2 linked regions of the Homo sapiens genome follow. The gene in region 2 interacts genetically with the main gene of each other region. Each region holds a gene or a part of one and is shown on either strand. Other genes may lie near its edges. The genes, in order: CHEK1 and CDC14A.

Evidence for each region.
Region 1: changes in CDC14A (region 2) and CHEK1 are lethal when combined (synthetic lethality), as found in Homo sapiens cells (one large-scale study listed by BioGRID).

Annotation. Positions count from the first base shown.
Region 1 is NC_000011.10:125,652,545-125,656,371, reverse strand, and holds part of CHEK1 (serine/threonine-protein kinase Chk1), read right to left. Parts: intron 2,627-3,827; coding exon 2,525-2,626; intron 1,148-2,524; coding exon 1,052-1,147; 3' UTR 1-1,051. UniProt on the Homo sapiens protein: Serine/threonine-protein kinase which is required for checkpoint-mediated cell cycle arrest and activation of DNA repair in response to the presence of DNA damage or unreplicated DNA.
Region 2 is NC_000001.11:100,498,938-100,502,764, reverse strand, and holds part of CDC14A (dual specificity protein phosphatase CDC14A), read right to left. Parts: coding exon 3,503-3,827; coding exon of another isoform or gene 3,386-3,502; exon of another isoform or gene 3,305-3,385; intron 1-3,304. UniProt on the Homo sapiens protein: Dual-specificity phosphatase. Required for centrosome separation and productive cytokinesis during cell division. Dephosphorylates SIRT2 around early anaphase.

The sequences.
Region 1 (3,827 bases), on a different chromosome or scaffold from region 2:
CAATTTTAAAAATTTTTATTAGAGGTAGGGTCTTACTCTGTCATCCAAGCTGGAGTGCACTGGTGCAATCATAGCTCACTACAGCCTCAAACTTCCAGGTTCACGCGATCCTCCTCTCTCAGCCTCCTAAGTAGCTGGGACTACAGGCAGGAGCCAAGGCCTCAACCTAATATGCCCCAAAGTTGATACAAATTTTATTAGAAAAACAAACTTTTTGTAAGTCTAACAGGTAAAGGAACAAAGAATCAGATCTATTTTTCTTATAGCTTCCTTACTCTTCCCTTCCCTCTTTTATTCTTTATCACCTAAAAGCTTGGTCACCAGTAAGTTGAAAAGGTTAAAATATGGCTATGAAAGTAGAAAATATAGAAAAATATTTAAGATGTTCAACAGTAATTTTTAGAGTAAAGTTAGTTAAGCACTAGAGTTTATGCAACACTGTAAAATACAAGTATTTTACTAACTACACTGGAAAAAACACCTACTTGCAATTTTAATTAATCATTATAATTCAAAAACAGGTTTATATAACTGGCCAGGCCCTTTTGAAAATATAAGTACAAATCTTGGGGATATGTTTTGAAGCTGGCTTCGCTTCACAGACTGATAAATCTACTGTCCAAAAGTCACAAGAATTATGTCTTTATTGGTTCATCTTAGAATTAAATCAACATGGAATATGTACTTTTTGAATTAAACAAAATGTTTTGATAAAAATGAGATACGTGTGTATAAAAGCTGGAAAACTCATGTCCCCTGAAACTTGGTTTCCACCAGATGAGTTTCAAATTCAGATACTAAACACACATGAAGAAATAATCAAATGAATTCTATTCATCCTTTCCCCAAAGTTTTGCTTACAATTAAGATATAGGTATTATTTGTATGCCGAACAAACAAAATAAATTGGAAGATGTTTGGATAAACAGGGAAGTGAACACTTCAGGAACTACTATTTGCAGTTTGCAGGACAGGATAATCTTCTCTAGGAAGAATAATGTCAACATAGCAGCACTATATTCACCAGGATTCCCCAGAGCCGATGGTCCGATCATGTGGCAGGAAGCCAAATCTTCTGGCTGCTCACAATATCAATCAGCTTCCCTTTAATCTTCAGGAAGTGTCTCTTGAACTCCAATCCATCACCCTATATTAGAAATAGTATTAAAAAATTATGTCAAAACAAAAACAAAAACAAAATTCTGTCCTAAAATCAATCTCTTTGTAGTGGTAACAAGAGACAAACATCTTTAGGTATGTCTAGCTACCATTTTCTTTTCGGTCTGTTTATGAAGACCAAATATCCTGGAAGAGAAAATTGTTACACAAATAATTCTGATGTGGTTTCATGCCCATCACTGTTCCTACTGCACTGAGCTCAGAGAGCAGATAAACATGGCATCCTATCTGTTTCAGGTGTTGGTATATCTGGACCTAAGTCATTACATTCCATAGGCAGTGAGGGTTTGGAAACTAACAATAAACTATACAACTAAACTGAAGTCTTGTTGTCATAACACTACTGACCAAAATCAATAGATTTAGTTATGAGAAGAATTTCATTATACTACGATCTTAATTTAATTCTGTAGCAAGCATCTGAAAAACAGTATTGCAGCAAATCTCTAATACAAAGAGTACTGCGGCAAATGCTCTAACACAGCAGCTACCCCTCCAACCCTCTTTAGAGCCACATACAATCTCTCAGAAAATAGAGAAAAATGTTATTTTGGTTTTATATATCAAGGGCTGTAATACTATCATCTTAGAATCAATGATTTCTAAAGAAATCATCAGAAATATGAACAAAAAAATCTATGCATAAAATAGCAATCACAGAATTATTATAACTGGTAAAGGTTCATTAAATTATAATGAAATATTTGTAACAAATCATAATTTTTATTAAAAGACATAAATTAAGAAAAATATTAAAATGCTTCGAAATATTAATGTGATCACTGAAAATTTAGAATTATTTTTATTTTCTCATTTTTTGCTTATCTACATTTTTCACAAAAGCAGAAATTTCTTTTTTTTGAGACAGAGTCTCTTGTATTGTCACCCAGACTGGAGTGCAGTGGCGTCATCTCGGCTCACTGCAACCTCCGCCTCCCAGGTTCAAATGATTCTCCTGCTTCAGCCTCCCAAGTAGCTGGGATTACAGGCACCCGCCACCACGCCTGGCTAATTTTTTGTATTTTTAGTAAAGATGGGGTTTCACTATGTTGGCCAGGCTGGTCTCAAACTCCTGACCTCGAGATCCACCCGTCTCGGACTCCCAAAGTGCTGGGATTACAGGCATGAGCCACCACGCCTGGCAAAAACTTTTATAATAAGGAAAATGTCATTTGAAAAAAACAATGTTCGGGAAAAATAGATAACGAAAACACATGCTCATAATATTAAACGAAAAAAGCAAGTAACCTATTTACAAATGCCACATATATACAAACATAATGCCATTAAAAAAATTCATATAGAAATATTTCCATAGAAAGAATACAATAAAACATAAAAATACCTTAGAAAGCCGGAAGTCAACCAATATTTTATCATCCATTTCTAACAAATTCACTTTGAAAATGAGTTTATTGTTTCTCCTATCAGTTGTTGATATAGTAACCTAAGGCAACAAAAATAAGGTTAAGCCACATGGGTGAGTAGATAATAAACTAGTAAACCCACTATGAAGAACAGAATAGAAGTTTCTCAAAAAACTACAAATAAAACTACCTATATGTTCCAGCAATCCCACTACTGATCCAAAGGAAAGGAAATTATATGGAAGAGAAATTTGCAACCCTACAGCATTATTCACAATAGCCAAGATATGGAATCAACCTAGGTATCCAACAACAGATGAGTGTAGGCCAGGCACTGTGGCTCACGCCTGTAATCCAGCACTTTGGGAGGCCAAAGCAGAAGGATCGCTTCAGACCAGGCTGGGCAACATATCGATACCTCATCTCTACTAAAATTCCCAAAAAATTAGCGGGCATGGTGGTGCATGCCTACAGGCCCAGCTACTCAGGGGGCTGAGGCAGAAGGGTCACTTGAGCCCAGGAGGTTGAAGCTGCAGTGAGCTATGATTGCGCCACTGCACTCTAGCATGGGCGACAGAGCGAGACCCTGTCTCAAAAAAACAAAACAAAAAGCCAAGCAAACAGATGAGGATAATATGATATATATACACAATGAAATACTACTCAGCCATATAAAGGAATGAAATCCTGTCATTTGCAGCAACATGGGTGGAACTGGAGGACATTATGTAAAGTGAAATAAGCCAGGAACAGAAAATTAAACATCACATGTTCTCACTCATATGTGGAAACAAAAAAACTGTTAATTTCATAGAAGTAGAAGGCAGAACAGAGGATACTAGAGTCCAGGAAGGGGAGAGGGAAGGGAAAGATAGAGATTCATGAAAGAATACAAAATTACAGCTAGATAGGAGTAAGTTCTAGACCACTGTAGGATGACTATACTTAACAATAATAGAGTTTCAAATTGCTAGAAGGATACTGAACATTCCCATCACTGAACATTCCCATTCCCACAATGTTTGAAATTATGAATATGCTAATTATCCTGATCTGATCATTATACATTATATGAATCAAAACATCACTACATACCCCATGAATACATTACAATTATTGTATCAATTAAAAAAAATTTGCTGGCTACCTCCATAACAGGAGTAATATTAAGTATGCTGATAATCTCACTCATTCCAGAGTCTCTCTTCTCCCAGTGGGTATGTGTGTCCCCAACCCAATCTATCAACAGGGGTGCAGCTCCTAGGGATTGAGTGTATATGA
Region 2 (3,827 bases):
ACATCATTAGGGGAGATTAACAATTGTCTAAAGAATTGCCCCCATGGTTCTACCAGCAAAGAGGAAAACAAAAAAGTAGAACATTATTCTTGTCAAGCTACCAATGCTACTGGCATTCAGCTATAAATGTGGATTACACAATACCTTTACGTATGTAATCTGCAAGGTATTTACATAGTCATGCATCACTTAATGACAAAGATACATTCTGAGAATGCATCCTTAGGCAATTTCATTGCTGTGTGCACGATAGAGTGCACTTATACAAACCTAGATGGTAGAGCCTGCTACACACCTGAGCTAAATGGTATAACCTATTGCTTCTAGGCTGCAAACCTGTACAGCATGTTACTCTACTGAATATTGCAGGCAACTATAACACAGTGGTAAGTATGTGTGTCTAAACATACCTAAACATAGAAAATAGACAGTAAAAATATGGTATAAAAGACTTAAAAATTGTACACCTGTAAAGGGCACTTACCATGGATAGAGCTTGCAGGAAGGGAAGTTACTCTGGGTGAGTCAGTGGGTGAGTGGTGAGTGAACATGAAGGCCTAGGACATTACTGAACACTACTGTAGACTTTATAAATGCTGTACACTTAGGTTATACTAAATCTATATTAAAAATTTTTCTTTCATGAATAATCAATTAACCTTAGCTTACTGTAACATTTTTATTTTATAAACTTAATTGTTTTAACTTTTGACTCTTTTGTAATAATACTTAGTTTACTATTTTTTAATGTTTTTATCAACTCCCAATCACTTGAAATTAACACTTAAAATAAGCATTGTATGTGTAACTGTACCAAGTATTTTCTTCCTTTACATCCTTATCCTATTTTTTTTATTTTAAATATCTTTAGTATTTACTTTCTAAATTTTTTGTTTAAAATGAAGACACAAACACACACATTAGCCTGGGCCTACACCAGGTCAGGATAATCAATATCACTGTCTTCCACCTCCACATCTTGTCCCACTGGAAGGTCTTCAGGAGCAGTAACACATGGAGCTGTCATTTCTTATAACAACAATGCCTTCTTCTGGAATACCTCCTGAAGGACCTGCCTGAGGCTTACAGTTAACTTTTGTTTTAATAAGGAGAAGGTGTATACTCTAAAATAACGATATAAAGTACAGTATAGTATATACATAGGCCAGTAACAGGTATTTATTATCAAATATTATGCACTGTACATAATTGTATTGCTAGATTTTTATATGGCTGCAGCACAGTAGGTCTGTTTACACCAGCATCACCACAACACATGAGTACTGCAGTTATAACCCTACGAGGGCTACGACGTCACTAGGCAATAGGAATTTTTCAGCTCCATTATAGTCTTATGGGACCACCATTGTATACATGGTCTGTTATTGACCAAAACATCATTAGGCAGCACATGACTGTATGATTATCTATATATCTCTAGCACTTTTTCTGAAAATGGAAAGATCTGCATTCTGATCCAAAAGAAGAGGCTGATCCACAATCGGTATGTGAAAATGCTGACTGAACTCAATGCCTGCTGGAAAGTATATGATTTATAAATATAGTTAGGAAAATGTAAATATATTATCTTTTTACATCTAATCCTTAGTTACATGGATTTAAGTTTTTATGATACCTATACACCCAATTTTTATAGTGGGATCATGGGATCAGAATCAGATTAAGGGGTAGATGGGCTGGCAATTTCCTGGGACCCTAATCTGTAAAAGAATCTAAACTAATGCCAAGGCCAAGCATGGTGGCTCATGCCTGTAAAATAGGACAGGGAACATCAGATATGCCAGGCTCCTCTTAGGGAATGGGTTGAGAGTGGACAGAGAGGGTAAAAGTTTTAAAAGAGGTCTCAGGTAGGGACAGGAGTGGTAATGAATCTAATGCAACCACACATGAACACACACACACACACACACACACACACACACACACACACACTGCATTCTCATGTTAGAAAACATCCTCATCCTCATGGTTTCTTTTTTTTTTTTTTTTTTTTTTTTTTTGAGAGTGGCTCTGTCACCCAGCTGGAGTGCCGTGGCACGATCTTGGCTCACTGCAGCTTCCACCTCCCAGGTTCTAAGGGATTCTCCTGCCTTATGGTAGCTGGGATTACAGGTGCGTGCCACCACGCCCAGCTAATTTTGTATTTTTTGTAGAGACGGGGTTTCACCATGTTGGCCAGGCTGGTCTCGAACTCCTGACCTCAGGTGATCCACCAGCCTTGGCCTCCCAAAGTCCTGGGATTATAGGCATGAGCCACTGAGCCTGGCCCATCCTCATGGTTTCTAAACTGTCAACTAAAGAAAGTAGATATCATTAAGAATGAACCATGGGGCTCCTGTTTTGCTGAGTGGGCCATACGCAGCACACTGCCACCAGCACCTTTCCTCCTCCCCTCTTCTCTACAGAAGCAGGCACTCCCTAGATGATGGCTGAGGAAATGTTTCAAGAATAGCAAGTGTGAAGCGACACCAGGCCAGAGCCTTCCAAGACACCCAGGGCTTGTTCATGCCCTGAGTACGATCAGTGTTGCAACACTGTATGTATATGTACCATGCTTCATATTTCCTTAATACATAGGATTGATTTCTCCTTCCTATTTGTCCTTGTTCCTCTCAAATCGAAACTCACATTCCTATAGATCTCAATACCCCTAGAGGCAATCAAAACAGGTTATTAAAGTAATTCATAATAGGAGTTTACCAACAGAGTTTACCTTACCAGGTATTGTTGATTGTTAAAGAGAGCTTGGTAACCTAAATAGAGATCTCATTGGTAAGATGTGTTTGGAGGTCTTCCCACCTTTCTCTAGAAGAGTGCTGGCTACTTTTAAACACCTTCCTGATACTCTGCTTGCTCCCCACCTTGCATCCCAGGTACCTACCTATAAGCCCTTCTTAGAAATATCTTCCACTTGCCACTTATTTTATTCTGGGTCAGTTCCTTGCAGGAGGTGAAATATTCAAGGGCCTAATGCTTAGTTCTAGGAAGATACTGTTCACTCAGCACCTTCCACGTTTCAATACTCCAAAATTAATTCACTGATATATGATGCGGAAAAAGCCATAATTCCCCAAACCAGCGCACCCCCAGCAAATGCTATCCACTGTATGAATCAGCTCCTGGCTTAGCACCAGATATTCAGAGTGATTGGAAACATAACTGAAAAGTAACTGAAGTCAACAATGCCCATAATCAAAAGAATGAAAGCTATTTCCCTTTTAAGAGAAACTACTTAAAAAGGAGTTGGGGGTAAGAAGAAAAAGAAGGAAGGAAGAAAACCCAGTTGTGACTTGGCGTTTACTTGAAGAGGAGCTAGCAGAATGTAGTGCATAGACAGTTTCACAGCACAGAGGGAAGGCATCGCTCAGAAGGCTTCCTTGGCACTATTAAATTTCTTTGGTGGCAGCCTCGGCTGGGAAGGCAAGGCACAGAAGTTGCATTCAGGGTTCTGAGGACCAGGAGGTGGTGTCTGCGCACTTACAGGGATAGAACGGCTCAGGAATCTCGCTGAAGAAGAAGAAAGCCCGGTGTAGGAGGGTCGGAGGATGGTGGTGTGCTCCTCTGTCTTGGCGCTGTGGGGGCCTGGGGGGCTGTTCAGGTTGCCCCCGTTGCTGTTGCTGCTTCTGTTGTACTGATTATTGTTGAGCTCAGGGTAATTTCTGGTAGTTGGCTGGGAGCTGCCATTCAAGAGGTTGGTAAACGGGCTGGCTGTGAAGCCTGCCTTAGAGGATGAGGAGGTCTTTTTGTTCTCTGGATCATCTGTTGCAGCATTCAAGTTCCCTAGAGAACTGGCTAGCCGGGAGTTT